Linked DNA regions of Homo sapiens: region 2 is linked to region 1. The links come from fine-mapping of genetic effects on gene expression. A gene starts in region 1. The other region holds a variant in brackets. All regions are shown on one strand. Distances are between the middles of the regions. Region 1 holds the start of SPTB (spectrin beta, erythrocytic). Region 2 overlaps SPTB (spectrin beta, erythrocytic).

The links. PIP is the estimated chance that this variant, and not a neighbour inherited with it, causes the effect. A credible set is the group of variants that fine-mapping cannot tell apart.
Region 2: its variant is the best candidate, but not a certain one, in a credible set for the expression of SPTB in whole blood (INTERVAL, PIP 0.86).

The regions. Positions count from the first base shown.
Region 1 is chr14:64,871,914-64,887,268 of GRCh38, forward strand. SPTB (spectrin beta, erythrocytic) reads right to left here and starts at 7,994. Exons shown (of 36, transcript NM_001355436.2): 1 at 7,879-7,994. It overlaps LOC105370534 (a long non-coding RNA gene), which reads right to left. Exons shown (of 3, transcript XR_943942.3): 2 at 14,010-14,077; 3 at 8,968-9,475. RefSeq lists silencers at 8,105-8,274, 8,325-8,464, 8,535-8,614.
Region 2 is chr14:64,784,514-64,799,868 of GRCh38, forward strand. SPTB (spectrin beta, erythrocytic) reads right to left here. Exons shown (of 36, transcript NM_001355436.2): 9 at 15,234-15,355; 10 at 13,216-13,333; 11 at 12,044-12,202; 12 at 10,824-11,126; 13 at 9,954-10,104; 14 at 8,484-9,354; 15 at 7,206-7,343; 16 at 1,891-2,647; 17 at 1,236-1,438; 18 at 1,024-1,114. MIR7855 (microRNA 7855) reads right to left here and starts at 1,173; the gene lies at 1,113-1,173. The variant T/A (reference allele first, on the strand shown) is at 10,479.

The DNA of each region.
Region 1 (15,355 bases):
ATAAAGTGAAATATATTTCAATCTTGTTTCTCCCATATCTTAATCTCCATCACATAGTATAAACGTTGTGGGACTGATCTAAAAGTAACAGTACAAAGTACACAGCACATCTAAAGCTTCGCTTCAAACAGATGTCATGAATCATCCCAAAATAAAAACATCTCCTTTTTGGTGTATTTAAATGAAAAGTCTGCCAAGACTATTCCAAGTCAACACCTCGACAAAAACAGAAATTAAAAAAAAATAGCCCATGGTACATTTGATAAAATACATCACCATCTCAGTAAACGACCTTTTTGTTCATCCAGTTGTTCAGGCCAAAAACAATGGAATCATCTTATTCTTTTTCTCTCATCCTCTATATCCAAATCTCATAATCTCTATACTCAGAACCCAACTGCATCTCACCAGGACTATCATCCTGATCCATCCTCTCGTCCTGAACCACCGCAGTAGCTTTCATGGGACTCCTTGCCTCCACTCTTGTGCCCCACAATCAATCCTCCTTAGGGCCGCCAGAAAGATCTGCTTGAGACACAAATCCCAACAAGTCACTCCCCTGCCCACAACTTCCAGTGGCTTCCTATGACACTTGGACTAAAACTCAAAGGTCACAAAGCCTGCACCATCAAGACCCGCTTTTCTCTCCAGCACTGTGGTTAGCTCTCCCCATGACACCCTGCACTCAGGCCACACTGGCCTCTTTGCTATTGCTTGGACACAGCAGTGGCCCCACGTTGGGGGCTTCCCATTTGGTATGGTTTGTCTGTGTCCCCACCCAAATCTCATCTTGAATTGCGGCTCCCATAATCCCTGCATGTCGTGGGAGGGACCCGGTGGGAGGTAACTGAATCACGGGGGTGGGTTTTCCTGTGCTGTTCTCGTGATAGTGAAGAAGTCTCATGAGATTTGATGGTTTTATAAAGGGCAGTTCCCCTGAACATGCGCCTGCCACCATGTATGACATGCCTTTGCTCCTCCTTTGCCTTCTGCCATGATTGTGAGTCATCCCCAGCCATGCTGAACTGTGATTCAATTAAACCTCTTTCCTTTATAAATTACTCAGTCTCTGGTATGTCTTTATTAGGAGTGTGAGAACAGACTACCACTCAACCTGAATCTCTTCTCCCAAACATCCCATGCCTCTCTCCCCACTTCATTTGAGTCTCAGCCCAAATGAAGCCCCATCAGATAGTGTTTTCCCAACCACCCTACCTGAAATAGTAGAACCACCCTTCTTTCCCTTCATATTGCTTTATTTTTCTTTTTAGCACTTGAAATTACAATATATATTTTTGTCTGTTGCTTGTCATTTAGTTCCTCTCTCCCCCAACTACAATGTGCACTCTACGACTTCAGACATTTTTGCCACATTCACTGTTACATTCCCTGGGCCTACAGCATGTCTGGCAAATTAAATGAGAACTCAGTAAATATTTGTTGAAGACTGACATACAAATCAAGGCCCTCAAGATCACTGGACAAAAAGAGGCTGCTGAAGTCCAAAATGAAGCATAAGCACAATAATGCCCAGTAAATTTGGGGTAAAGGAATGAAAAACCCAAAACATCAATTAACGGGCAGATGAACCCTTCATTTATCTATGGCATGCTACTGAGAATCCATTAATTCATGCTTTGGAACAGCATCTGTGCATACTCTGGAGGGCCATTCTTGAGGTTCTGTGGCTATGGTAAAGGGTAATACCATTAACAAGTGTCTTCTCTCCAGAACCAATGAACTTATGTGGAATATTCTGCTGAAGAAAAAAAGCAACCGCGGTCTCAACCAGAAGGCCCAGAATATTCAATTACTCCACTGAGAAGACCTGGAAACAGCCCCAGCCTCAGAACTAGGCAACTGGGTCAAAGTCAGGTTTTGGAATAAACTACTAGAGGGACATTGAGTATATAAATGTACATTTCTAATCCTGTTTTGTAACTGGAAACCAGGAATAATCAGATCTTCCCTTCACATGCTCATCATAAGATAAAATAAGATGATGTGTAGACAAAGGCATGCTGAAAATTGAGTGGACTATAGTTATCTGTGATCATCATCTTGTACTGGCTGGGATCTAATTCACTTTCTCTTCACTGCCACTGGTGAGCTTTGTCAACAAAGATTTCATCACACCCCTTTATGACTTAAAAACTTCCAGTGGCTCAAACTTCTTCACAGGCTGAACCCCAACCACCTTTCTGGTCACACTTCTGCCATGTGGAACTACACTTCATCCCCTAACCTAATCATGCTTTATTGTCTGTGCTGGGCAATTTCCTAAAGCCCCACTCGCAGGCCCCCTCATCCTCCCTTCTTCCATTATAGAAATCCTAGGCACTTTCAAAGGTCTTCTCATTCCCCAACCTGAATGAGATGTTTCCTCCTGTACACCCTCTCTCTCAGGCATCCTGTTGAATCACTGCTTGTTTGCAAGGCCATTTTCGCACCAGATCAGTGATTCTCCATCTGATCTCTTTGTGTGTCTTCAGCACATAACAGTGTAAGACACGTGGTAGACACCCAATGTCTGCTCTTTTTGAATACACCTCAATTCTCTCTCGGGCCTTTCTACCTCTAACTCTCTATGACTTATGACTCGAAGTCAGTATTATGAAAGGCCTTTTCTTGCTTTTCCACCCTTCTGGAAATATACTGGAAGATGAAGCTAATTGACCACTCCTAGGGTTCTTCTAGAAACAGGCTGGGACTCAAAAGAGGGACAGAATAAGGTTACAGACTTCTTTCTGGTCCACATAATTTATGCCTTTAAAGTATGCTTTGTTTTATTTGAATTGCTATACATTCTCAAGTGAGACACGCCCATATTTAAGTCTGGTACAAATGGAAAATATTTTCAAAGTATTCATTTTCGGAATTATTCAAGTTTCTTCTCCTTTTCACAATGGTGGAAACTCCTAAATTGACTATAATTCGAAGCAATTATTGTTCTTTAGCTATCAAGGTGCCGTTAGTCTCTTCATAAATATCCTGGATGATCTGAGCCTGGTTCAATGCAAAGCCTATTTTTTTTTCAGCCCTGTGCCTTTTCACTTGCTAAATTTATAACATTCAAATGAAAGAAAGGAAGCCCACTTTTGCCCCCACTGCTCACATGATATATGCTGAGTTTTAATTGCCCTTGTAATTCTACCCTCAGCCAGGTCTGCACAGGTATGATGTGGAAATAAAACATTATGGCAAAGCCTGAGAAGGGCTTGCTGAGGTAGGAAGAAGAGGGCTTTGTAATATTTCCTGCAACCAGGAAAAGGAAAGAGAAAAATGAAAGGTGGTCTGGGAATTTGATAAGCTAGCCAGACAATTCATTAAGGAAGCATTTTCTGTCTATGACCACCTCTAAGACTACGTGAGCTATAAAGGCTAGGGATCCCCTGATGGTTTGATATTCAGCTGAGGCTGGCTGAAAATGGAAGAATGTGGATCACTTGGCTGTGAATTAAGAAATACACGCAGCAACAGAGGGAAACACACTATGGCATTTTCTAAATATTTACCAAGGGGAGTTGGCAATCCGTGAGCAGAGCCAGATCTGACAGTTAATTCTCCTGACTGCCTCCTACGCTCTTCCTCAATCACTATCTCCATCTCCAAAACAGGTGACCTTCCCCTAATGGGGTGAAGAAGGAAGCATCTCTGTGATAAACCCAGCAAATGCCACATGATGATTCTGGCACACAGACCACTGCATCTACTCTTCTTCCTCAGATTTCTTATCTAAAACAGAGGAGTAACCTACGATCTGTCTGTTAAAATCAACTGAGTCAATACAAGCTGCTTCAAAGATAAAATTCTTCTTTCCACAGTCATTTTTGGCTTGTGATATCCATATGGTTTCAGAACCCAGTATCCATGAACTTCCTTGCCAGTCCTCATTATATAATCAAATTTCTCATCAGCCCACATAGCACAGTTATTTTCACTCTTGATCTTCCCAAGTTCATTGATAAATGTTAATCTGTAGGTCTCAGGTTATTTTTTTAAATTCTATAATTTTAAAATTCCATAACAAAGAAACATATTTTAAATCACTTTTTAATTAATTCATGAATTAGAGATGGCACCTCATTCTGTTGTCCAGGCTGGAGTACAGTGGCACAATCATAGTTCAGCCTCTCTAACTCCCTGGCTCAAGCAATCCTCCTCCCTTAGCCTCCGAAGTAACTGGGATTATAGGCATAAGCCACTATACCTGGCTTTTTTATATCAATTTTTTGTTTGTTTGTTTGAGACACAATCTCACTTTATTGTCCAGGCTGGAGTGCAGTGGCGCGATGTCGGTTCACTGCAACCTCTACCGCCCAGGTTCGAGCAATTTTCCTGTCTCAGCCTCCCGAGTAGCTGGGATTACAGGTGCCCACCACCACACCTGGCTAATTTTTGTATTTTTAGTAGAGATAGGTTTGGCCAGGCTGGTCTCGAACTCCTGAGACCAGCCTGACCAGCATGGTGAAACCCCATCTCTACTTTAAATCTCCCACTGGTCATGTTTCCTACCTTTTCAGGTCTTGAGCAGACAGTAAAATTTTGTGTTTGATTTTGAAATTAAAGTGCTGCTCTTCAAGAACAATTTGGTGATTGGGTTTAGGTTAAAACACGTATCTGACGGTCTCAACAGTTCTCTAAAGTCCTTCCCCATGCCCCCCAAAAATGGACATAATTACTTAAGATTTCTTGTCTCTAGATCGTAATGTGTATAACTATTGTTTTAAAATGTATACATGTGTACACCTTACAAGCAATGGGGGAGATTATAGAACAGTTTAGAGTTTAAAGCCTGAGACTGCCTTCTCTCCTGCTTATCCTCAGTACCTTTTCTTTAAGATTGCACTAAAATGAAAGGACTAGATATTAAAAACACATCCTCTCATAATCTCCTCCAAAGGAAATAAAATCTCAGTAGTTTGGTTAGGCAGAACTTCAGGAAGTAAACCATATTGGCCTTGAGAGTGAGACAGGAAAGAAATGAACTCGAGTAATAAGAAGTGTGGGTGCCATAGCTACACATCAATGATCAGGTACATTCAGTTAGGTCTTGCCTTTAAGCCAGTAAGTATGCACATGGAAGGCTGGGTTCAGTGACCTCCAGAATCCCTTCCCTCTCCAATAGTGTTTGCCTCATGAATTTTTTATAGCCATCCTCTGTCCTATCACACTGTCCCTATGTATCATCAAGCCCTCCTGGCCACTTCCAGGACTGAAAGGAAAATCTGTTCTTTAAAAAAAAAAAAAAAAATCCATGCTTTGACTCCTGCCAAAATTATAGTTCTGTCCTTGAAACAATGACCTGAAAATAATGGGTAAGGCTAAGAACCTCTGAGCAAATAAATGCCCAATATTATCTTCAGATAATATTTTTTAAGCTCCTCTGATATAAGCAGAACTATTACCTGAGGTCCTGGGAATGAAGATTATGAAGCTAGAAGACAAACAGTCAAATCTTCCCAACTTGTACTTTATATTCCCTGCTGAGTGTCTAACCTTAAAAAGAAGGTAGAACCAAACAAACTGAGTTTGAATCCTGGACCCATCTCTCATTAGCTGGGTAATATGAGGCAAGTTATTTAATCTTCCTGAACCTGTTTCCTTACTTGTAAAATGTTGATATGAGCTACCTTATAGAGTTACCATGACAATTAAATTGGATAATATAGAGAAAACGCTGAGCATTCATTTGTTGGTTTCCTCATTCATTCAACAAAGGTTAACTGAGGTTCCACTACCATCCAGGTACTGGGTACAACAACATAAAAGACAGAATAAAAGCTATTATTATTTACCAAAAACAGTTTGTTTCCAGAGCTGCAGCAGACCTGTCAAATTTTGACTTTAGTTCAAAACTGTCATTCACACCTAGCTTGCCTAAAATACTCATTTTTATTTTGCCAAATGTGATCCCAGGTAGGAGTCTTGCTCCTGTCATACCTTCACCCCCAAAACTAGTCATCTAGCAGGCGTTCTGCTATAGGACACCTTCAGAACACTTGGAAGAAGCATTGATCAGAGCCAAAGGTGGTATCCCAACTCTCTTCTGGGCAAGCCGCTCAGGAGAACTTGATACGCCTGTGCTACAAGGCCCATCCTGGATGCCTGGGAGTCCTTGGGTGCTTACAATTCCATGAGTGGACTCTGAGTCTTCCCAGAACTCAAGATCAATAGGACTGGCTCATCCCCATCATTGCCACTGGGGCACTGATAAAGCTAAGAGCAACAGCTAAGGGGTCTGAAAGCCACATTTTCATGAGCGTTTATGTCTTTCAATGGTGCTTTACTCTAGAGTTTTTGATAAAATTCTTTATAAATGACCCACCTCTGGAGTTAGTGGGTTTCAAGGCTGGTGGGCTCTTCTTCAATGTAAGTTTAACATTCCCTTTCCTGGCTAGCCTGCAAGCCTCCAGGCAAGCACAGGCCTAGCTGTGTCAGGTGCTGGACATTCAGCATACATTAACAATCATTTTGCACTTAGAAAAAAAAAGGTGTTTTCAATTGCATTTTGGAACCTGGGACTCAGAGCAAAAGAATAAAAGCTGAATCCTAAAATAAGAAATGACCTGCCTTGGGTTATAGTGGGGGAAGGGGTGGGCGAAGAGGGAATTCTAGAATAAAATTCAGAGCCATCTGTGAAGCTAAGGATAGGACAGTGGACAGTTGAGCTGTGCCTAAAAATCTTTGATTTGCAGACTCCTCTCATTAGGGAGCCGCCTGAATCTCTTCCCTTAGAAACTAAAATACGGATCGTGACTACCTCCAGGCAGGGGTTTTGCATGACTGCCTCCTACCTGGAGGTGACAGCCTAGTCTCTCCCCACAGAAATTCTCAGTACAAAAAGGCTGTCACTATATCCCCCCACCCCACCCCCCAATCTGATGCATCTAAAATTTAGATGTACAAAAAACAGTGGCTTCTTTTCATTTTCCTTACTCCTGGCTGGCGCCTCTAATTGCTCACTGAAAACAGTGGTTTGGATATTAATAGGCTGTAACTCAAGGCCCTACCTGAAGCTCGTTGTCAGGGAAACAGCACTCCAGCCCCGCAGCTGCTTCCCCAGCCTGGGAAGTACGGATGAGTTGGTGGGAGTTGGGGATTGTTTTACAGCTTCTGTTATTTCTCCCACTTTCTGCTATTTCTCAAGACCAAGTTAGAGGAAGAGGGGAAACTGGAGAGGAGGGTGAGGGTAGAGTAGCCCGGAGAAGCTTAGAGGAAGAGAGGAACTCTTTGGGAGAGGAAGACTAGGGGTCCTTGAAGTATGGCTTGGGGCACTAGGATCTTTCCTCCCTCGGTCTACACGGGGTCACTCTCTGGGTGGCTCCCAGCACCCGGAGGCCCGGCCCCCTCTGCTGCCCTCACCTGTCCCTCCTGCCTGGGCGCTGGGTGGCCCGAGGAGAGCGCAGCCAAGTTCCCCAGAAGAGGGATATGAGCGGCCACAAGGCTGAGAAGCCGGACAAAAAAAGGCAGAGAGCAGCGCTGCGGTCGGACGGGCTAGAGGCGCAATCCCCTTCGCTCCCAGGCCGGGGTCCTGGAGAAGGCGGACGAGAACACGCACCCCCGTCACCCTCTCCCTGCGCCCCGGGGTGACGGACTCTCCGGGATCCCGCTCTCCAAAGCTAGCACCAAGTGCCTCGGACGCCCGCGCGCGTTCCCGCGTCCCGGGATGATCTTTGCCGCAGCTGCCGGGCTTCCCGGGCCCCGCACCCCTCCCACCCCACGCCCGACAACCGGGGCTGGACTCCCACCCGGTCCTCTGGGCCCTGCGCGTCAGGCGCCCCCTGGGCCCAGCGCTCCTTTGAGCTGGCGCCGCGCGTCCCAGCCTTGCGCACCCGCACCCAGCTCCCTTGGCCGCCGGGCCCTCCTGGGACTCACCTGCCCTGGGACTGAAGCGGGGGCCACCCCGAGCCCGGGGGTGGCGGCGGCGGCGGCGCAGGGGGAGGAGGGCAGCGCGGGGCTCCTGGCACAGCGGCCGCCGGGCGCCTGGTGCTGCCGAGCCGCGGACCCGCCCAGAGATATAAATAACATTATCTGAGGAGGGACATTCCTGCCGGGGGACATCGCTGCTGCCGGGACCAGATAGTCCCGCGGCGGGGGCGGGGAGGCGGGGCCGCAGCCTCCCGCAGCGCCAAGCCCAGCCCCCGCCTTCCCCACCCACTCACGCACCTGCCAATCAGCCTCCGCGCCTGGGGGCACCTGCCGGGCCTCAGCCCGGCTCCTGGAACCCGCCTCTGCCTCCCCGCCCGCCGCTGAGCCTGGGGCGCCTCCATCGTCGTTCATTGCCCCTAACCCCGCGCCACCCCGAGCCCCCTGAGGCGGGAAGGGGGTTGGACTCTAGCTCGGGCCTAATTCGTGCGCCCGGAGAGGCAAGCCTGGTGGCGAAAATGAGCCCTCCAGCCTTTCCCGCCCTGCATCCCCACTGCACACAGTTCAGTTTTTAAAATATATGAAAAGACATTTAGGCCATAGGGTGGGCGCGGCGGGTACCCGGGAGGTGAACCCCCGCCGTGGCGGGTTTGGGAGGGACAGATTGTTCCCGGGGGCTGGTGCATTAGAAAGCGCGCTCCCGGGCGGGCTTCTCTCGGCTGGCGGTGGGAGGGCAGGGGGCGGGCACTGGGCCCGAGGGCCCCACCCCCAGCCCGAGCTCAGTGTCGCTGTTTCTGCCCGAAAACCTAGTGTAATCAGGACGAACCAGGCAAAGCTGGCGGCGCGCAGCCTGCAGTCCCAAGGAGCTCGCACATTGTAGGGACTGTAATCAACAGGCAGGCTGCCACACCTGCCCACTGGCACCTCCTGGCCGGCCCGGGTCTCCGGGCGAGTGGGGGTGCCTCACTACAAGCCTGGATGAGGCGCGGCGCAGCAGGCCAGAGGAAATACTAGAACCGATGGTGCCAAAAAGGCATCTCCGAGTTGCCCCCGGAGAGAAACTCAATAGAACACCGGCAGCTTGCAAGGCAGTACATTTTCTTGACTTTCTAACGATCAAGGTCATTGTTCAGTAAGGTTTACGTGTACGCCTTGAGGTAGCTTTCATCTCTTTTCTCCACCTGCGGTGCCTGGGATGATTTCTCACCAGCTATCAACGCAGGTAATCTCAGGTATTATGGAAATGGCCGTGGAGATTAAAAGCGCATAGATGCAGAAGAAGTTTTAACTTTTACTGATGCTGCCTGGTGTTCTTAACAAGGGAACAGTCTTACTCCTGAGTTATTTGCTTGGGATTATAATTGTGCTGTTTTCCAGAATTCACCCAGGAAAGGGGTGTTTGCCAGATGTTCGAGTTTAGTTTATATATTGAACATATGCAAAGATACTTCACTTCCTGCTGCAGTCCCACTTCTTGAGGGTGGGTATTTAGACACTGAGATGTGCTGAGTGGGACAAACGCCCCAGGTATTACAGAGCCACAGAATTCTTCACTCCACCCTCCTCTTGGCTGGATCCTTATTACAGCTCAATTTTCCAAGAGACACTAGTAATATGGGAAAGAGGATACAAAAACATTCATGGTCATCGATAGATTCGCAGTGATCCCCTCCTCCCCTTTGTTGACAACATTTAAGAATGCATTTTTCTATTACTGAGTTAAAAAGAGAAAGTTCTGTTTTGTGAAAAAAAATGTTTAAAAGTCAAATTCTGGCAAGGAAAGCTCAAGAAAAACAGGCCAACTTCAAAAGCTGAGACTATTATATATCTCAAGAAGAAATCCTTCATCTATTTTTGTTAGAAAAAAATGGAGGGAAATTATGTATTTATGGTTTTTTAAAAGCTTGTATGAATAAACTTATTAGATAAATTCATGGTTCTCTAGAATGGTGGTTCTGCAGCTACGTAATTATATACTATGCAAGCCAGATAATTCCTTAGCTATAGGTCTGTGGCACTGAACTGAATAGTTGCATACATATTTTTCTTTGTAGCCTTAAAATTTATAATTTTCAACCATAAGAAAAAATTAATATGATAAAACTCCAAATCAGCAGACAGATTACCCCAACATTTTACAAACCAGCTCAGCTGCTTTAGTTATCTCCACTTTAGCTGAAAGCTAAATAATTCAATACAACCTCATTTGCTACAGAGCATGTTATCCTGACAGCATCCCCAAATGCTTTACAGCTAATAGAGTTACAGTGAAATGATAAATCAGAACTGAGGAAGAGAGGAAATTTAGGCTTGCAGTGAGGAAAGGGCATTGTCAAATAATAGGGAAAGGGGAACAGATCTCTGTGGCCAGGAATGAGAAATTGGGAGAATAAAAGAAGGGAGAAAGGTTGGGCATGGTGACTCACACCTGTAATCCCAGTACTTTGGGAGGCCGAGGCAGGCGGATCACTTGAGGTCAGGAGTTCAAGACAAGCCTGGCCAACATGGCAAAACCCTATCTCTACTAAAAACACAAAAATTAGCTGGGTGTGGTGGTGCGCACCTGTAATCCCAGCTACTTGGGAAGCTGAGGCAGGAGAATCACTTGAACCTGGGAGGCATAGGCTGCAGTGAGCCAAGATCACGCCACTGCACTCCCACCTGGGTGACAAAGCAAGACTCTGTTTCAAAAAAAAAAAAAAAAAAAGAAGGGAGAAGGAAACACATACATATGTTCGTTATCAAGGTCATCATTGTGGGCAATAGGGATCACGTCTGGAGGGACCTCCTCAGAAGAGTATAGAATACCTCTTGGAATTGTCTATGTGAAGGATAGGAGATTAACCCTCATCCTGGTTGGACAAAGGACTGCCCCCACTGGTCTCCCACCCATGTTGAAAACCTACACTTCCGAGCTACCCAGCAAGCTCCACATAGGCAGTCTGCAGATTTGGAAGAGTTCTGGGGCCAGAAGAGAAGGTGTGCATTTGAGAATAGATGTTGACAGCCAGAGAGTGGGGGGTAAACCTTCACAGAACTGTCTACTCAGGTCTAGCTGAAACCAACAGGTGAGGCCAAGAAGATATAAGTTGAGACTTATGTTAGAATCATCTAACATAAGAGGGAACTTTCACTTTCCATTTCTGTAGTCTTTGAGTTTTTCACAATAAGCTTGTATTGTTTAATAATAAGTAGAGATGATAAATAAATTAAAAAGTAAAGATTGGATGGAGATGGTGGATTGAATACACGCATTTAGCTTCTCTTCTACCCCAAATTTCATTAGAAGATATGTCTGAAACAGGCATCTAAAAGCACAGGAAAATAAGGAAAAGGGGATCAGTGTTCCAACAATGTTCAAGAAATCCAGAGATACAGAAAAGATGCAAGATCTGATTCACAGAGAAACAAAATCAGAGGAAACCAAAACAGATTCAGGAGGAGCAATAGTTTAGGGAAGTTGCAAGCAATAGTTAAAGGATACAAGAGGAGGAGGGGCCCTGAGACAGAATAATTCACTTAGGAGCCTCCTCTGTCCTGCTCACATTAAATATCAGGTGTTTGCCTGCAGGACTTAAAAAAAAAGTTAATGGGGATCCTGGGACCCAAGGGGCAGAGCTCAGGGATCTAGTGACCCCAAGAAATGACAGAAACCATTCACTCTCTTGGGATAGCATGTCCTGACCCTTCTTCACAGCCCCTGAAGATAGGCTATGATAAGCAGAAAGAGGAGACAAGCCCATTCCCACATTAAGGGATGATAGGACAACCACCAAATATCTTATGGGGAGAGGGGAACCAATACCATGAAAGAGAAGCACCAAACCCAACTAATAGAAGGAAATAATATCAGAGGAAACTAAGTTAATAAAAGGAACAAGATAAATGTTAAATAATTTAATTTTAATCAGCAAGTCTTGAAAGGATATTGCATCCACAACAAATAATCAGTGAGAAACCTTAGAAATTTAAAAAGTCATTTCTGATATTGAAAATTCATTAGTTGAGAAGCAGAACAGACCTACTTGAAGGGCAAATTAGTGGAAACAGAAGCCAAAGAAATTTTCCCCAAACACCGGGCAAAAGACAAAGGAGATGGAAAGTATGTGAAAATGGTTGAAAGCCATGTAGGCAAAATCCCCCAAGGTCCAGTATTTGCTTAATGGAAGTTACAAAAGGAAAGAAAAGAGAGTAGAAGAAGGTAATAATGGGAAAGTAGAATAGAAATTCTCAGAGTTGAAGAAAAGCATAAATTTTCAGATTATAAAAACCAACTGAGTTGCCAGCCAGATGATTTTTAAATATAGTTCACAGTTTTATGAACAGTTTTAAAGTTTATGATTTTATTTATAAAACCCAAGACATTGAATAAAAATAAGTCATAAACCAAAAACTATAATAAGCTACACCAACTTGCTTGGCCTTGAATTAAATTGATCCTAAAAATATTTTGAGCTGGATGCGATGGCTCATGCCTGTAATCCCAGCACTTTGGGAGGCTGAGGTGGGAGGATCACCTGAGCCTAGGAGTTCGAAGCAGCAGTGAGCTATGATCACGCCACTGTACTCCAGCTTGGGTGACAGAGCAAGACCCTATCTAAAACAAAAATAAAAACAAAAACAAAAAACTGAATCACATAACCAAAGTTATTTGTGTGAAATAAATGAACCACTTGAATTCAGAAATGAATATATATGTAGGAAAGCTACGGAAAAACGTAAATACCAAACCAAACAAACCTGAAGTTCCACTCAACTCAAACTCAAATCCCCGCCAACAACAATGGAGGTATCAAGAACTCATGATAATGTTCAGAAATCATCAGAATACTGCCCATAGCTCAAAAATCATTATTTCCCTTCTTTACCCTTTTGCAAAGACATGCATTTCATAAAATTAAGGTGAAATTTCCATTTCATTTTTGGAAACATCTAGAGGCATCACATTCTCCACAACTTTCAAAGACAAAGCAGCAGCAGGACCAATTGGAAAAGCCTGCCATTTACAATATGGAGGAATCAAGGATTAGGGACCAAACTTGCCCTTCAGATGCCTCAAACAGAATGGTTGTGGAAGGAACTTGAAAGCCTGCAGCAAGTTTGCAAATACCAGATGAACCATCTTCTGAAGGGGCAGATGACACCAATTTCAAATTTCCCTCCACCAATAACAGGAAAAAGCAAAACAAGATTTGTATCCTGTCATCTGCTAGTCCATGGAAGCATTAACCAGGCTTGGAAATTAATGAGCATCTTTTCTTTTCTTTTTTTTTTTTTTGAGGTGGAGTCTTGCTCTGTTGCCCAGGCTGGAATGCAGTGGCTCACTGCAACCTCCACCTCCTGGGTTCAAGTGATTTTCCCACCTCAGCCTCCTGAGTAGCTGGGATTACAGGCATGCGCCACCATGCCCAGCTAATTTTTGTATTTTTAGTAGAGACGGGGTTTCACCATGTTGGTCAGGCTAGTCTCGAACTCCTGACCTCGTGATCCACCTGCCTTGGCCTCTCAAAGTGCTAGGATTACAGGTGTGAGCCACCATGCCTGGCTGCATCTTTTCTTATATTGCAGTTCCTGATCTTTCCTTGCCACACAGGATTAGGTTTTTTGTCACCTCACATGAGCTTGAGTAGATGTAATGGCAGACTTACACTGGGGTATCTGATGAACTGGGACCTGTAGGTGCTAATTCACCTTGTTCCCAAGGCTGTATTAATTTGCTAGGGCTCCCATGACAAAGTACCATATGCTGGGTGACTCAAACACAAAAATTAATTTTCTTACAGTACTAGGGTCTAGAAGTCCAAGATCAAGGTTTCGGCAGGGTTGATTTCTTCTGAAGCCTCTCTCCTTGGCTTGTAGAGGGCTATCTTTTCCCTCTGTCTTCACATAGTCTCCACTTTGTGTGCACCTATGTCCTACTCTCTTTTTTTTTTTTATGGACATGAGTTATATTTGGTTAGGGCCCATCCATATGACCTCAGTTTTACTTTCACTACCTCTGTAAAGCCTTATCTCCAAATACAGTCACTTTCTGAGGCATTGAGATCTAAGACTTCAACATGTGAATTTAGGGGGATACAATTAAGTCCATCACACAGCCTCATCTTTTCTCACAATGAATTGCTTCTGGAGCCTCTTACCTGTTCATCCGTTCTCCAGTTTCCCTCTCCTTCAATTCTGCTTCCACATAGTAGCCAAAGTACACTTTCTAAAAAGGAAGGTTGGTCTTGTCACTCTGCTTCTTTAAATCAGCCAGTGGCTCCCCATTGCTTTCAGGATATAGTTTTAAGATTCCTGGCACTTAGCATAGTATCTGACACAAAAGATATACTTAATAAAGGCCTAATGAGCAAATGAGTAAATAAATGAATGAACACATTATGGAAATTAAAGGAGGTTGCAATCTTGGAGATCAACCAAAGAACAGGTAATTCAAAAAGTCATTTCTATTTGGCTTAAAAATGCATATTTGTGATTTTTTTCAGGAGATTAACTTTCCTATCTATGTTCGAATAAGGTTATTTAAATGAATTCACATTCCCTGAAACATAGCTGGCAATATTTGTGCCTGAATTTCACCAGGTCCTCAGCTACCCTGATGCATCCATACCTAACTTATTGTCAATGGGTGAGAAATGGAGTGAATCGAGTAGGTTTTATGCTCACAGTTACCACTGAGCTCATCTATGGAGGCAGGGGTCTGCCATCTTCCAACGTCTTTATAACAAGGGATAGCAAACACAATAATGATGATTCGGTTAGCTTTTGTCTCTGTCTGCTCCACCCTCTCAGTGTCATTTTCAGTCCTCATCCTTGGGCAATGGCCCTGCTCCAACTCCCATACTCCAATATGCCAAAGCCTTGAGTACACAGGATTAAGAACATAGGAAGATGAATCCAAACGCATTATAAGGAGTGAGTTAATGTTGTTTTGATATTAACACTCTACCTTGAGTACTCCAGACAGTGGGTAGTCTGCAAGTAGACAACTGAGAGTAACTAACCATGAAAACTTTGTTCTCTTCCTTTATTAATATTTATCAAGCCAGAAACTCAAATCAAGGGTAGAAAATATAATTTTAAAAAATCAAATTTGTTAATATGGAATGACAGCTGGAGTTCTAACAGTTTAACCAATAAAACAATTTTGTGTTTATATGATAATTACTGCCAGCATAAATGGTCTTGTTAATTGCTTTTATTTGTTAGTGAGCAGTTTCCAAATTCACAAATATTTGTTCTTAATATTAACCAAGACCTTTGGGAAATTTTCAATAAAGTTTGGAAAGACATTGCAATAAAAGACTCCATTACTTCTGCAAATTCATCTCATTTTCTTTTCTATTGGATATTTCTACAGCTGCTCAATTTCTGTTTGGATATTTCTTCAATGATTTAAGGTCTGGTCTACAAGAAACTATGATTCAATTCAAACATATGTTTTATAGAATTCATACAGAATATAACTGGGTCTTCTCAGAAATAT
Region 2 (15,355 bases), 87 kb before region 1:
AGAACCCATCTGCAGTTCTGGATCCCTCTGTACCAGCACAGGCAACTTTACCCATGACAGGCCAGGGCTAAAATGTGGGCACAGGTGCATCTTCCCCACTGGAGTGTGTGTGGTGTAGACCAGGGATACTTTACGCTCCTCTCCATATTTTGAGGACCTAGGACAGGGCCTAGCATATTCTAGGAACCCAACGAGTGTTTACTGGATAGGTGGATAAATCCGTCCTTTGGCCGTAGGGTGAGAGATCCTTGATAAACACAGGAAAAAATGTTATTTGAGGAAGAAGCCAAGGACAGAGGTCAATGAAAACAAAGTTGTCTGGGCTGAGAGAAAAGGAGTATGACAAGAAAGAAGTCAGGGAAAACCCCATTCCATGTAGAAAGTACTGTCAATGGAGGGACCTGGGAAGGCGGATTAAAGACCTTCCTTGTACAGCTGGTCCCAGGTTGAGCAAGGACCTTCTGAGCTAGCAGTTTTCCAACTGGCAGGTTTGTTTAAAATGTTCTTTCTCTGTCTCACCCCGTAAAGTTCTGATTCATCTGGCCTGAGTGGGACCCAGGGGTCTGCTTTAACTAGGACCAGGACTGGCTCCATAATTTGCAGGGCCCAGTACAAAATGGAGTTGTTCAAAAGCATGAAGAATTTCAAGATGGCAAGAGTAGAGCATTAACCTGAGCCCAGGGCCCTTCTAAGCAAAGCACAGGGTGTGACACAGGTCACACATCCTCAAAGCTGGCCCAGACTGGGTCCTAGGTGATTCTAAAATAGACTGTCCCTAGACTACTCTTAAGAAACTCTGGCCTAGACTTGACAGGTTAAGGATGACTTTTCAGATTTGAAAAAAAAAAAACAGTGCAACTGAAGATTCCAGAGAATGACCCAATTAAGTACCCAGAGGTCCCCGCTCATGGAATCCCACAGCTCTTGAGCTAGAAAGGATCCCTGTGGACTTCCTGCCTTGAGGGAACTCTGCTTCTAGAAAGGAATCTCCAGGAAAGCAGCCACTCCTTGCTGGAGCCTCACCTCCTGGCAGTTCTGGAGGAAGTTCTGTAGCTCCAGGTTGTCTCTCAGTAGGACAGAGGCCTCCTGGGCCTTCTCGTTGTTCTTCCTGTGCCTGGAAAGGAAGCCAAAAGCACAGTCACAATAGTGCCGAGCTTGGGGTCCTCACCAAGCTTGGGGTCCTCACTACCCCCGTGTGGCTCTGGGGGCCTCGTGGCCCTGGGGCCCGGGAGTACCTGTCCTCAATCAGCTGCACCTTCTCCTTGATCTTGTCTGAGTATAGGTTTCCCTCAGCTACCAGCTTGTTTCCAGAGTCCACAGGACTCAAGACCTTATCCCGGTTGTTCTCCATAGACCCCAAGAAATCCTCAAACTTCCGGATCCCAGCCTCTGCAGCTTCCAGGGAGTCTGGGGGCTCCAAGTGAGCCAGAGTGTATTCCTGTTGGAACAAGTTTCCAGACAAGGCATGAAGACACACGGAGGAGGTGATGAGCACACCTCCCAAGTGGGAGCACCACGTGCAGCCACACAGGCCACGGTATGAATGAGCCCCCTAGAGTAGTACAGGGAGGAGGCACTACTCCCCAGGCCTTGCCCCCACCCCTACCCCAGGGGCACACAATAAACAGTGTGCCTAAAGCCACATGGAAGGCTAACCACCCAGGGCAAAATGCGCTTCTCTAGCCTCTGATAGACCCAAGAACAAGGCGTAGTTTGGGACACAAGGCTGGAAAAGGCCCCTAATGAGAAACAAAGATTTCCCCCATGAGTGAATACAGAGTACAAGACAAGAGTAATGTGGTCCCTGAGTCTTACAGCACATTTGTGGACTCACCACAAGAGCTACTGCCCTGAGAGACCCGCCTGTCCCAGCCCTGAATGCCTCTCTACCTGGTTGCTGAGGATGGCTTCAGCCTGCTTGGCATCTTTCTGGAACTCCTGGAAGCCAAGGCACTGAGCGAGGGTGTGGCTGCGGCTCTCCCACATCCTGCCCAGGGCATTCCAGCCAGTATCCAGGCCCTCCAGCCGCTGGCCCAGAAGCAGATACTCTGGGTCCGTCTGGCCTTGGATCACTTTCTCCCCAGACTCCTTAACACGCTGGTAGCTGTCTTGGTGCCCGTCAATCTCATCCTTGATACCTGCATGCTGCTGCAGGAGCTGCTCAGCCTCTGGGAGGGATTCGGGCATGTCCTCAGAGGCCACAGCCTTCTGGGTGATGGAGAGCCAGGCCTGGAAGTCATCCAGATCCTGCAGGAAGGCCTGCAGCTGGCTGACTTCCCCCAGCAAGTCCTCCTGGCCCTGCAGGGATTGCTGCAGGCCCTGCCACAGCTCCTCCAAGTGTTTTTGCCGCTGACCAATATCCTCCTTCTGCTCAGGGTGCGAGTCCATCAGCTGCTGGGACTCACGCTCCAGGGCATCCACACGGGCCTGGATGGCGGCCACGTCACGCTCCAGCCCTGACAACTTCCTCTGGATGGCGATGATACCTGCCAGGTCCCGCCCCAGGTCTTTTGTGGACTCCACTACCTTTGTCTTGTCCGTGATCCACTTGCTGGTCTCCTCGCAATCTACGCAGTAGTTGTGCACTCGGAGGGCTGAGTCCACAGCCTCCCGCCGCTCCGACACCAGGGTCTGAAATGCCTGCCACCTGCCGGATGGGGACACAGCCCGGAGGAGAGAGACACCTTCTCCCTTAGCTCTTCTTCCCATAGGAGACCCTGACCCCTTCCCACATTTCCCACAAGTCTCCCCCCACAGACTTTGTATGATAAAAAGAAAAAAAAAAATCTACCTAACGAAGTGTAGGTGAGCAAAATTCACTTCTCCAATTTTACTCAAGACATATATAACTGTCAATCAGATCTTTTGATCAGCAGGGGGCAATTAATTATGTGACTCCAACCATAAGTAAAGGAACATGAAAGCAAAGTCTATGCATGTAGTTGGAGTTCAGGCAAATATACAATTTCCCCAGAGTTTATGAAATATCAAAATAATTAAAAGGCTCACATTAACTTCAAGAATGCTTCAGGACATAGGGTCCCCAGCTGCCCTAGAGGAACCAAGTAAATGCCCAAGGCCACATGCAACGTCTCCTAGGGCCTGAAAGAGATCACCTTGGATCTAAGAGAAAAGATGCCCTGGTGAAAAAGAAGAGGAAGAAGAGGACAGGGAAGAAGAGAATGGGGAGGAATAAGTTGTGATGATAATTTAAGTGACTAGCATAATCTTAACCTTCGAGTGCAGTGTTGCTATGAAATACGGAAATGTGCTAAGGTCTGGCGGATGCCTGGGGGCCTGGGGTCAGTCTGCAGTACACGATAAGCCTCTTTCAAAGAGCTGCCCATCAGCCAGGCCAGACCACTAGGGACACTGCCCTTGGGCCTAGGTTCACTCATTCTGCATCACTGTAATATGCAGGCTGAATGCTCATTCTCTAATCGAACCCATCTTTCTCGAACACCCACAGGGGTATAAGCCATTTTATTGGCCTTTGGGAGAATATAGACATAACCAGACCATGCCCTGTGGGGTGTATGATTTAGAGAAATATTCAGACAAGCTCACAAATAACATAGCATAAAGTTTCATGTGCACAGCACCTAACAGGCAGAGAGGAGGATTAAGGCAGCTGGAAGGAGCAATGGGGTGACAGTTGCTCACGTGACCTCCACACAACCCATCACTGGACACAAAGCCCCAGTCAGTGAACACACCCCCAGTGCCTCCACTGGAGTGACCAATTAAAGGATGGGACCAAGTGTCTCATTCATCTTTGTACCCTGCCTCAGGGGATGGAGGCTGAGGGACTAGGAGATGGACTGGACAGAGAGCGCTGTTGTGCATTCCCAAGGTGTGACAACAGCAGCCAGTATGATTTGAAAGGTCTGCAGAGAGATATAAGAGACAGGCTGGGAGAGACCAGGGATACGAGAGAGGAGAGAGAGCCTGCAGATTTCTCGGCTCCCATCCTAGACCATGAAGACCCCGTGCTCTGGGAATTCCGTGCCTGTCTGGCACACAGATGGTGCTCTGAGGCTAGGAAATCAAGGGGTTTTCTCCAAGTTTGTTTGAAAGCCCTGGAATCGACAGGGAAGTGTTCCTGGGAGAGGGTCTGGCTGTGTCCCCAGGCAAGAGGCCCCATAGTGATTTTCCAGGCCTTTCCTGGAGTGGCCTCACTGTAGCCATTGGGTGGAGGCCACACCAAGATGCACTGGAGCTTGGGTCTAGTCTGCTTCCCAAACCTACACTTGCCCCCTCCACTGCACTGTCTTTGAGATGGAGGAGGTTGATAGAGCCACTCTAGTTATCACTGGTCAGGCAACATCAAGAGTCTAGGTTTGGTCCTGGGCCAGGTTTTTCTTCAACTGGAAAGCATACGGTGAAAGATGATCACACATTCATCAAGTGTTTGAATGACTCACACATAAGCTTGGCAGAAAAACCTTAGTTTTTTCCCAGTTCACTCATGTACTAAGCATTTATCAAGCAACTCTCAGTTGCCTTGTGGCAGACACTGACCTAGGCACTAGGGATATGACAAAGAACTATGCAGGCTGGGCTCAGTGGCTCACACCTGTAAATCACAGCAATTTGGGAGGCTGAGGCCGGAGGATCTCTTGAGCCCAGGAGTTCAAGACCAGCCTGAGAAACATAGTGAGACCTCATCTCTACAAAAAAAACAAAAAATTAGCTGGGTATAGTAGTGTGCATCTGTAGCATTAGCTACACAGGAGACTGAGATGGGAGAATCACTTGAGCCTGGGAGGCTGAGGCTGCAGTGAGCCAAAATTGTACCACTGCACTCCAGCCTGGGTAATGGAGTGAGATTCTGTCTCTATAAAAAATTAATTAATTAATTAATAAAGAGTAATGCAAAGTCCTTGCTTTCATTCAAGTGGATAGAGACATAAACAAGTCTATAATCCATCAAGTGGTGATAAGCGCAAAGAAAAAATAAAAGAAGGTAACAATATAGAGGCCAAGTGGGTCAGTGAGAGGAAGGATGTGCTGCTTTCCATGGGGCGGTCAGCGGGGGCCATGCCAGTAAGCTGACATTTGAGCTGAGACCTGAATAAAAAGAGTAAGCCAAGGGCATAGCTAGGAAAATAATACTCTAAACAGCAGGAACCCCAAAAATGTATTAGGTGTGCAAAGCCCTTGGGCAATATAAATAGATACAGGTCTTCATTTGTTTACATAGTCTAGCAGGAAAGTCCTTGGGGACAAAAATAATTAGAATGTAAGATAGGATATGAAGCTCAAAACCAGTACAAAGGAGGAAAAGATTGCTTTTCATCTGGAAAACTGGAAAGCAAGCGACTTGGACTGGCTCATGCAGAGACAGGATTTGGAATATGTAGAGGGAGGGAGAATGCACCCTGAGGGAAAGAACCGCAGAGGCATGAGGCGACACTGGGGGTGGAGGTATAGAATGAGCATTGTTCTGAAAAATAATTGAAGAGCTATACACGGAAGAGGAACCAGGGTAAGTGTGATATCTCTCAAGGGCAGAGCCAGAATCAATATGTACGCATTTCAAGGAGGCAGATTTCCACTCAATGGAAGAGCAAACTTTTTAACCAAAAAGAATTGCCCAAAAATGAGATAGGCTGCCGGGTGAGGGAGTGAGTTCCCCATCACTGGCTAGACTGGGTGACTTCTCAGGTTCCTTTCAACTCTCAAATTTAATTTCATGCCTCGGGTTTTTTTCTCACTTAAGGATGGCAGGTACCTTGATATTTTTCTCTTGGGGATGGGGCCTGTTTTAGGGGTCTGTAAAGATCAACATTCTCAGACTATAGTTTATTGTTGAGCTGATGAGTTCTTCCTCTCAGGAAGTTTCTCTGGTTTAGACCTGCTCTAGTTTCCTCAATTATGCAGCAATTGCAATAATCTCTACCACCTCCTGCCCACCAACACACACAAACTCATTACCTACAAGGCGAAAGAAGAGGGAAGAGGTATTCTCTTCCTTTGTAAAACATCAGATTGACAAAGGAATCTCCTAAACCGCACTCTGCAGCTTGGGCTGCTAAGACAATCATCCCATTCTAGTGGCTCTAAAGAATTCTGGTCATCGCTGCCTCCCCTTAGCCCCCCAGTGAACTCTCCACTGTGCCGATCCCTTTCTTTACAATGGAGTCTTCCCTAGGCCCACCTCCCAGATTGCCTCAGGCAGAGCAACGCTCAGGCACAGGTGTGGGGAAGGGGCTGGGGTAATGGGGAGGTGGTGAACATGTGGCATTGCATGTGCAGGGCCCACGGTAAAGACAGGGAATGCAGGCATTTGCGGTGTCCTCAAAGATCCTCCAGGAACTCATGGGCAATTTCACCCCACACTGAAAGCACCCCCTCTCTAAAGGCTCCTTGGGGCCTATTTTTTGTTCTGGCCACAAAGCTTGCTTAAGGCTCCCTGCTAATTCTCCTCTTCCTTCAAGCCAGCCTCATTATCGATACTGCATTTGGCAGAGGCAGGAGCATTATTTTATGGACAGTACTTAAGAGCTCTCAGAAAGCAATTTTCTCTGCCCAAGAATGTCCAGGGAAATATAGCATGAGAAGCATATGGCCTGATTCTAAGTTTGGGCACACTTGGGATGTGCCCTCCATCACACATACACACCCACCCTCCCCAGGCACAGCATTCGAGCCTCCCAGGACTCGTCTCTCTCCCTCCCTGGGCTGTTCACCACCTCAATCATTCCTCCTTGCTGCTATAGTTCCAGTACTACTGGGAAGGGGACTGTGGCTGAGACAGACAGGAATGTCGGTGGGGGCGCGGTGGCTTATGCCTGTAATCCCAGCACTTTGGGAGGCCGAGGTGGGCAGATCGCTTGAGGCCAGGAATGAGACCAGCCTGGCCAACGTGGTGAAACCACATCTCTACTAAAAATACAAAAACTAGCCAGGCATTGTATCGCACGCCTGTAATCCCAGCTACTTGGGAGGCTGAGGAACAAGAATAGCTTGAACCCAGGAGGTGGAAGTTGCAGTGAGCCGAGATCGCACCACTGCACTCCAGCCTGGGTAAAAGAGTGAGGTTCTGTGTCAAAAAAAAAAAAAAAAAAAAAAAAAAGACAGGAATGTTGAGGGTATAGAAGTGTTGGTGCATACTAGGTGGACTAAATTTTGGGCCCGGCCCCCAGCAGTGTGTCAGATGTTGAGAGACAATGCCCCCGCCCCATGCCCTACCCACACCCCACCTGGTGTTCAGATGGTCCTGGTACTGCTTCACCTCCCTGCTGCGTGGGTGGCCACTCTCTACCAAGCTGTTGGCAGCGAGGTTCACACCATCAATCTGAGTCATCAAGGTCTTCATCTCCTGGTCCAGGATGTCGAACCTGATATGGGCAAAGGAAAATATGAGGATGGGTGAGGCGGCAGCAGACATTTCCTTGCCAGTGGCACCCCCAGTCTCCAGAACATGTAGCTCTTGCTTTCTCCTTCCACTGCCTAAACCATTTGCCCAGGTGAGGCAGGAGGAAGAAAACAGATATGCTGGCCCTCCTTTCTGGTTCATGGGTTTGATTTCATGAGTTAGCATTGCCTGGAACAGGCCGGGAGAGAGCCAGTTACTTCCTACACGGGCTTCTGGCTCAAGAGAGACATATGAAGGGGAGGGAGGGCTGAAGAGAGGTTACTGTGTATTTGTGTGGGGGATGTCAATTGTCACAAGGGCCACCTTCCAGGCCTCTGCTTTTCCGGCTGTTGCTTTTGGACTCTGAGTCCAATGCCTTGACATCTTAACCCAAAAGATACCCTTTCCAGCCAGGTGCTCCATTCCTGGGTAAGATAAGGAAAAGCTGCTGGGGCGGTGGTCGGGGGGAATTTGTGGTTCTGAAGGCCGATCCTTCTAGGGTAAGAGCCCAGGACTCTCCAGCATCAGTGCAGCACCACCTTGGCACTGTTCCAGAGAGCGGCCTCTCCTTCTCCTGACTGCCTGAATTCTGTGCTTCAGCTGCTGAGATGCTGCACAGACTGGGGCATGCCTCATCATCTGGGGTGCTGACAAAATCAGAACACCAGGGGTGAGAGTGGCCTTGCAGACAGGGGGTTTGCAAATTCTCTCTGTGGCCCCTCAGAGTCTCCTGGCTTAAGGACTGCCACAGAAAGCTAGAGCTGGCAGGGTCCTGGCCTCTCAACCTCCTTCTCCAGAGTAGCTCCATTTTTCCTCTGTGTGACCTGGGGGTTCCATACACAATTCATCTGAGCAAAGACTGCTATTGCTGAAAAGTAATTGAATAACTGGACTAGATAAATTCCCTTTGTTTGAGGAACACAAGGCCCCAAAGGGTGAAGTACCCCAGGCCACAGAGCCAGAATAGAACTTATGACTCCTAATGCCAGGACTTTGCAACAAAGGACATCCCAGGGCCTCTCAAAGAGACCTTTGCTGATCCAGAGACTATTACCAAACTAGGTGGGAGATGGTGCCCAGGCCTGGGTACAGGGACGTGAGGAAAAGATGAGTTAACTCTGACCTGTGCTGCACGACCTCCAGGTCCTCCAGGGTGTCTGGCATTTCCATCTCGGCCAGCCACTTCTCCTTCTCTCCCATCCACAGCTCACAGGCGTCTGTCTCCCCGAACACCGTGTACAGGTCCAGGGCTTCCTGCAGCCTCTGCTGACGCAGGTCCGCCTGGGCCACCACCTGTTGGTAGAGCTCCCGCAGGGCCTGCAGCCGATGGGTCACATCTGGGGAATCCCGAAACTCTTCGGGGAATCCCTGGGCCTGCTGCTCCAGGTGCTCCATCACCCCACGGCTCTCCTCCAGCTCCTCCAGGAAGTCCTTGTGCTTTTTCCCCAGGGCCCGCGTGGCCCCTTCGTCCTGCCCCACATCTTCACCAGAGAGCAGCCGGTGGGCGTCTTGCAGCCAAGCCTTCAGGTCATCCGCATCGCCCTGGAACTGGAAAAAGTTCTCAGCATCCTGGAGGTTCTTCTTGCAGAAGGCAGCCAGGTCCTTCAGCTGGTCCCACTGTGCCGACACCTCCTTTATGCGGGCCTCGATCTGCGGGTGCCCAAACTGCTTGCGCGCAACCATGCCATGAGCCTCCTGGAAGATCTGCTCCAGGTGAGCATCCAGCCCACGGAGCTCATCCTCAAAGGCCTTGTGCTTGCGCTGTAAGATGAGCACACTGGTCAGGTCTTTGCCATAGTCCAGGGAAGAATAGATCTGCTCCTTCTCCTTGATCCAGCTCTCAGCCTCATCCATCTCCCAGAAGAACTTCCAGAGTCGTTTGGACTGCTCCAGTTGGGCCTTCCGCCCAGCTGCCATGTTGCTCAGCTCCTCAAAGCACTGCTCCAAGTGGCTGATGCGGTCCTGGATGACCTGGGGGTCACAAGGCTGGTACCCTGGAAGAAATAGGGGGAAGGAGGACAAAGTGGGGGATGGGCTTCATTTATGGGCACGCTTCAGATAAGCTGCTAGGTTGGAACTACACAACCCTGAAGCTGCCATGTCACTGGGGCTTTGGGGTTGGATGCAGGGGGGTCCCAGTTGCTCAGAGGGTGGACAGATTCTTTATAATTATTTCCCACTGAACTTCAGGGTTAAGGAAGATAAAAAGTGGGGTTAGTTCTTAATAGAAATGTACAACATAAAATTATTTTTAAATTAATTAAAAAAATTTCAAGGTCATTCTTGAAAGATGCAGTGAGGTCTCTTATTTAAAACAAGAATCTGGAAACCTAAATTGTCTCAGCCATAACTTGAACTAGCAAGGAGAATGAAGGACAGAGGGTGCCTCCTTGGTGATTATAGGTTACCGAAGCAGTTGCCTGCTCTCTAGAGAATTTGGCTGGTCCCTCAAGCTTCTTTCTTGGACCATTACTTGATGAAAGTAACAGAACTTTAAAGTTGGTTCCAGGAGATTTATCCAAGTTGGGTTGTTAGGCCAGAGGTGAGGCTCTGGCATTGGAAGCCTCAAAAGGGGAGACAGACTTGGTCTCACCTTTCCCCTCGGTGAACTTCAGGGTGGCTGCGGTGATGGCCTTCACTTTGTCCCCTTGGATGGCGATGTCAGCTTCCATCAACTTGTGCTTCTGTAGCAGGTCTTCAACCTCCAACAAGTGCTTCCCAAACTCGGCAGACAAGAGGTGAGCCTGGCAAAGAGAACAGCAGAAAGGAAATGAGGAGAAGTGAAGAGACCTACACATTAGGAGAAGAGACCCCTGCAAAGGGCATGTCTCTAGTAATCTGAGCAAGGGTGAGCCAAATGCAGCCAGAAAAGGGCTGCTGCTGAGGATGGAAGAAGCTCCAGAGGGAGAGTGCCTACTGGGGGTGCCCATCAGCATCATCCATAGAACATCTTACAGATGCTCAAGCCCCACACTCATCTACTGCATCGGTCTCAGGGTTGGGGCCTGGCCATGTGTATTTTCACAAAGCTCCAGGGGCAGTCTGATGTGTGTCCTCAGCTGAGACCCACTGCGGCAGAGAGAGAGGAGAGGTTGCCCTCATGCTGGGAGGTCTGGAT[T/A]CTAACCAGAGTCAAATTGTAATTACTAAGAGCTTGATTCTCCAGGTTCCTGATTAATGTCTGTCTCTTCAAGGCCCTGAAGGTTGGCACCGGTGCTGCCACAAACCCAAGATTTCTCGGTCACCAGGGTACCATGGACCTGGGCTGGTATCACCTGCTGGAGCAGAGTGGACCAAGAGGCAGAGAGGCAGGTGCAGCTAGACACTTTGCTGCCTCAGTTTCTCTATTTTGACTCAGAGATATGACTGGCTGGGAGGTGTCTAAGGAAGCCTATGCTAACTGCAGGGCCACTGAGACCCAAGGTGAGCACTGCAGGGCATGGCGGGGGCGGCCCCCAGGGCCCACCTTGATCTCATCCATCCAGTCGATGCTGTGCAGCATGTCCTGGAAGAGCTTCTGCAGTGCCAGGGTGGTCTCGAGCCTCTGGCGCCGGGACTGCAGCAGCTCCTGCAGGTAGCTCCATAGGCGCAGTATATTGTCCTTGCGGGCCGTGATGCGCTTCTGGTCATGGTAGTTCTCTTTCTCCAGCTCCTGAGCCAGGTCCTCCAGGGCTCTCACCCGCTCCTCGTAGGCAGCCGTGTCGGTCTCGATGGCCTCATGCTTCTTCTTGGCGGCCTCCACAGCTGCCAGGTCATACCCAAAGTTATCCTGCCCCACCGGGAGAAAAACAGGCAGCTCAGTCAGACACCCAGGGGCTCATCCCCAAACTCAGGGACAGGGCAGCTCCCTTCAGAACCAGTGCTAGATGGGAAAGCACATTCCCAAGAAGCAGCTAGTTCTGCCTTACTTTTGCAGCCTGTCTTATCAGACCCAAGTTCCAAAAATTAATGTCTCACAAGAGACTCTAAGAGAAGTTCATGATTTTACTCCCCGTGCCACCCGCGTGGGAGATGCAGCCTGCGTGTTACTAATGGAGCCCCTTGGCAGCCTGCTGGCACTCCCCACATGCCTCGAGTGGACCTGTTGGATTTGGGGCAGGAAGGGGCTGCTTCTCACTCGGAAACCCATGCACCAGCAAACAGATGGTTTATTCACATGCTATCTGGGGTGCGCATACACTCTCCAGTGCTCTCAGAATACTTGTTGCCCCCTTTCTGGACAGAATCTAATTTGATTCCAAGCTTTAAGTGAGAGGGAACAGATGCTCTGATGAAGAATCAGCCCTGGGGTCAATTCTTAGCTAGAATTATGTCACAGCACCAGAGACCAGAGTCCAAAAGGCATGCCTGACACAGACAAGGTGCAGTCTGTGATTTTACCATATCCCCCAAGAACCACAATTTAACATCAACTGAAACCCCAGCTGTAGTTGACACTACAGGCCCACATAAGACAACTTCAGCGGCCAGTTCTAGACTCCAAGGCTCTTTCCTAAAAATGAGATTTAATAAATCCTGGAGAGCTCCTCCCCAGATGCAAATCTTGATCCACTGGATCACGGGGGAGCTGTGCTGCAAGGCACGAGGAGAGGCTGTGAGAAGCCAGCTTGGACTCCAGCCCAGCCAAGAGCTGGGGGCTCTGAAGAATGTCCCCTCTCCTGTCACCCAAAGCATGTCCCTCATTACCTGGGCCACGAGGCGCTGGTTTTCACTGAGCCAGGTCTCTCTCATTGCGGCCTTCCGGTCAAAGCGCCGGGCCAGTTGCTCTAGCTTCTCCTGCCGAATGAGCTCATTTCTCAGGGCCAGCTCCCGCCGATACTCAGCTTCCTCCAGGCTTTCCCAGGCCTGCACAAAGGATGGAATGAGAATTCTTGGGGCACAGGAGAAATGCCTCACTTTGGGGGCTCCACCCCTTTCACCCAACACTGAGTGATTTCTGGAATCAAGGTACAGCCTGATGCTCTTGGGTGACGTGGTAGCAGATTAAAGATCAATAAAAGCCTTTGGCTTTCATGTCTGGGCCCATCAAAGATTCAGAGGGCACTGCTCATGAGTCTCACTTCCCTCTTCCCCTAAACCTGCCTCAGACTCTTGGCCCAAAATAATGTTTTTCACCTCTCTGGATGCTCAGTAAGTTCTTATTGACTAATGGCTACCTCCGTTCAATATGAACTGCCAGGTGGTGGTAAGCCTCCAAGCCTCTGAAATGTCATAGGCATTTCCCTTTGGTTATAAGTAGTTAATATTCCATCTTCAAAGACAAACTCAAGGTTCTACAGAGGATAGGCTACAAAACTGGCTCCAAAAAAATGGACTCGGAGGCTGGGTGTGATGGCTCACACGTGTAATCTCAGCACTTTGGGAGGCCAAGGTGGGAGGATTGTTTGAGCCCAGTACAAAACCAGCCTAGGCAACATTGCCAGACTCTGTCTCTATAAAAAATGTAACATTTAGCCAGGTGTGGTGGTGCATGCCTGTAGTCCCAGCTACTGAGACTGAGGTGGGAGGATCACTTGAGCCCAGGAGGACGAGGCTGCAGTGAGCTGTGATTGTGCCAATGCACTACCACCTGGGTGACAGAGTGAGACCCTGTCTCCAAAAAAAAAAAAAAAAAAAAAAAAAAAAAAAAAAAGGACTCAGGGATGCAGGGCATCTGAACAGGGGGATTGAAGGAGGGTGGGGGAGTAGAGTCTGACCCCTCAGAACCAGGTTCGATAACTCCCCCAAATAGTCAACATGTGGATTAATAACATCAAAGAAAGTGGCTTGGTTTAATCTGGTCCAATGACCATTCACTGTGTCCTTATCGGGAATTCAATCAATCTACTGTCAATGCATAACGGAAAATGCTGTGGTACCCTGTTGATGTCAGACACTAGTTTCCCATCGTGGGGTGTGTACACTTTCTGATTGTTGGCTCTCATCCGGGACTGGATGGTAAAAAGTAGAACTTCCAGATTCCCCTTCTCTTGAAACCTGTCAAGAAAACAGAAGTAGGAAGACTGATGTTAAGATCTCATGGCCAAATTTTTTTGCTAAAGTCAACACGGAACTGTGGCATCTTGAAGCGTAGATAGCAAAGCATATTTCCCTTAAAAACACAGAAAAACTAAAGAGAATCTGTAGGTCTGCTTACCTGTTAAAACATCTATCCTTTTCACCAACTGAGATCTATTAGGGGTTTGGGTCTTTACAATATAAACCAGAGAAAACACAATGGCCACCACAGCATTTATCATTTGCCTCTACATGGGAAGCTGAGGTATTCTGGTAATTCCTGTAAATATCAAGTTGTACGGATCAATACAAAAAAAATTTTAAAAAACCTTCTCTGTGCTGCAAGTGATGAGGGCTTCTTACTAGCTCTCTGGTCAGTTCCTTATTAAGTGAGTCAATAAAACCCCAGAAGCAGCATATTCCGTGGGAGAGCATCCTGCACTGAAAACAGCTTTCACCCAGGTCCTAATGAGCCAGATCTCCTGACAAGTCCTACAGGCCAGATGCTTCCCAGAAGGCAGGAAAGGCTGGGCTCTGAGAGGCTTGTAGGTGTAGGAGACAAGAATTGTCAGCAGGATCGGTGTCTAGCATATGGGGTACAGGCTCCAGGTATCAGGTACTTCCACATTTCTGCATGTACCTAAGTGTCCACCCATTTCTGCATCCTTGACCTGGCAGTCAAGGATCAGCTATATGCAAGGTCCCCACCCTGAGCCCAGCCTAATGGATCTCAGTGCTCACAGGCACTTAAGAGAACTGTGACCGTGAAGCACTGTCTACACAGCCAAGAGATAACACCTCTGTGTGCAGTGACTGGTAGACTCATAGAGGATGCTAACTGTATTGGATTTAGGGCTTCAGAAATGGGTTACTGTCAGACTAGAAACCAGATACTTGTTTATAGTATATCCTAGACTCAGCATTTCACCTTTCCCCATTTGAAAGTCATGAATGCAGAGTGTGGGAGATGGGGGGAAGAGCAGAGCAGAAGGTACCATCAATGAGCTAGAAGCCTATTTCAGAGGATCTGGACAAGCTAATGGCAGATAAGCTGGAATGCCCCGTGTGTATGTGTGTATGTGTGCATGTTTGTGTGTGCATGTGCACATGCATGGTTGTATATATGTATGTGCATTTGTACATGTGGTTGTATGTGCATATATATGTGCATGGGTGCATAGTTATGTGTGCACACATAAATGCATGTATAGTTAGGTGTATGTGTATGAGTGCACGGTTGTGTGTGTATGTTTGTGTGTGCATGCATGTTCATGGGTGCACAGTTGTGTGTATGCATGGTTATGTGTATGCAGGTATGCATGTGTGTGCACGGTTGTTTGCATGCACATGTGTGTAAGCATATGCACACAGGCTCTGCACACACTAGGGTGGGGCAGAGGTCCTGAGAAGCAGGCTAAGTGGTCTGTTGCTGAGCAGTGACAGATGGGAGAGAAAAAGAAGGATGAACTTGACAATCCATAAGGCCCCATGCAGAGAGCTCAGGGGCTGAGAGCACAGAGGTCATCAGAAAACAAGCCCACAGCTCAGTGGCAGACCAGAGAGGAGCTTTCCAGCCTGGGTTCTTCAAAGAGACTCAGAAGCCTATGATTTCCCTCCTGTTCCTCCTCAGGGATATCTGGGAGAAGCCACTGTCTTTGGTCGTGAGTCGAGGTTTCTCATCAATGCTGGTTTCTCTAAGCTGATGGCTTGGGAGAAGAGTGGTGAAGAGGGGCACAAGGCAGGTGACACACATACAGCTCTCTAATCTTGAGGGTGTGCCTTGTGGACACACTTCATAAGGCCCAGAACCTGGCTCTACCTTTTGGTGGTCAGTTTCCCAGCCACTGAGGACCACCCTCCCATGTGCCAGGGCCCTTACTTGGGCGGCTTCTCCACGGTGCGGTAGGTGCTGAAGGCCTGCAGCTGCTGCTGGACGCCCGTCAGCGAGTTGGCAAACTTGCGGCTGTTCAGGACAGTGATGGTCTGCTCGATCCAGGTGAG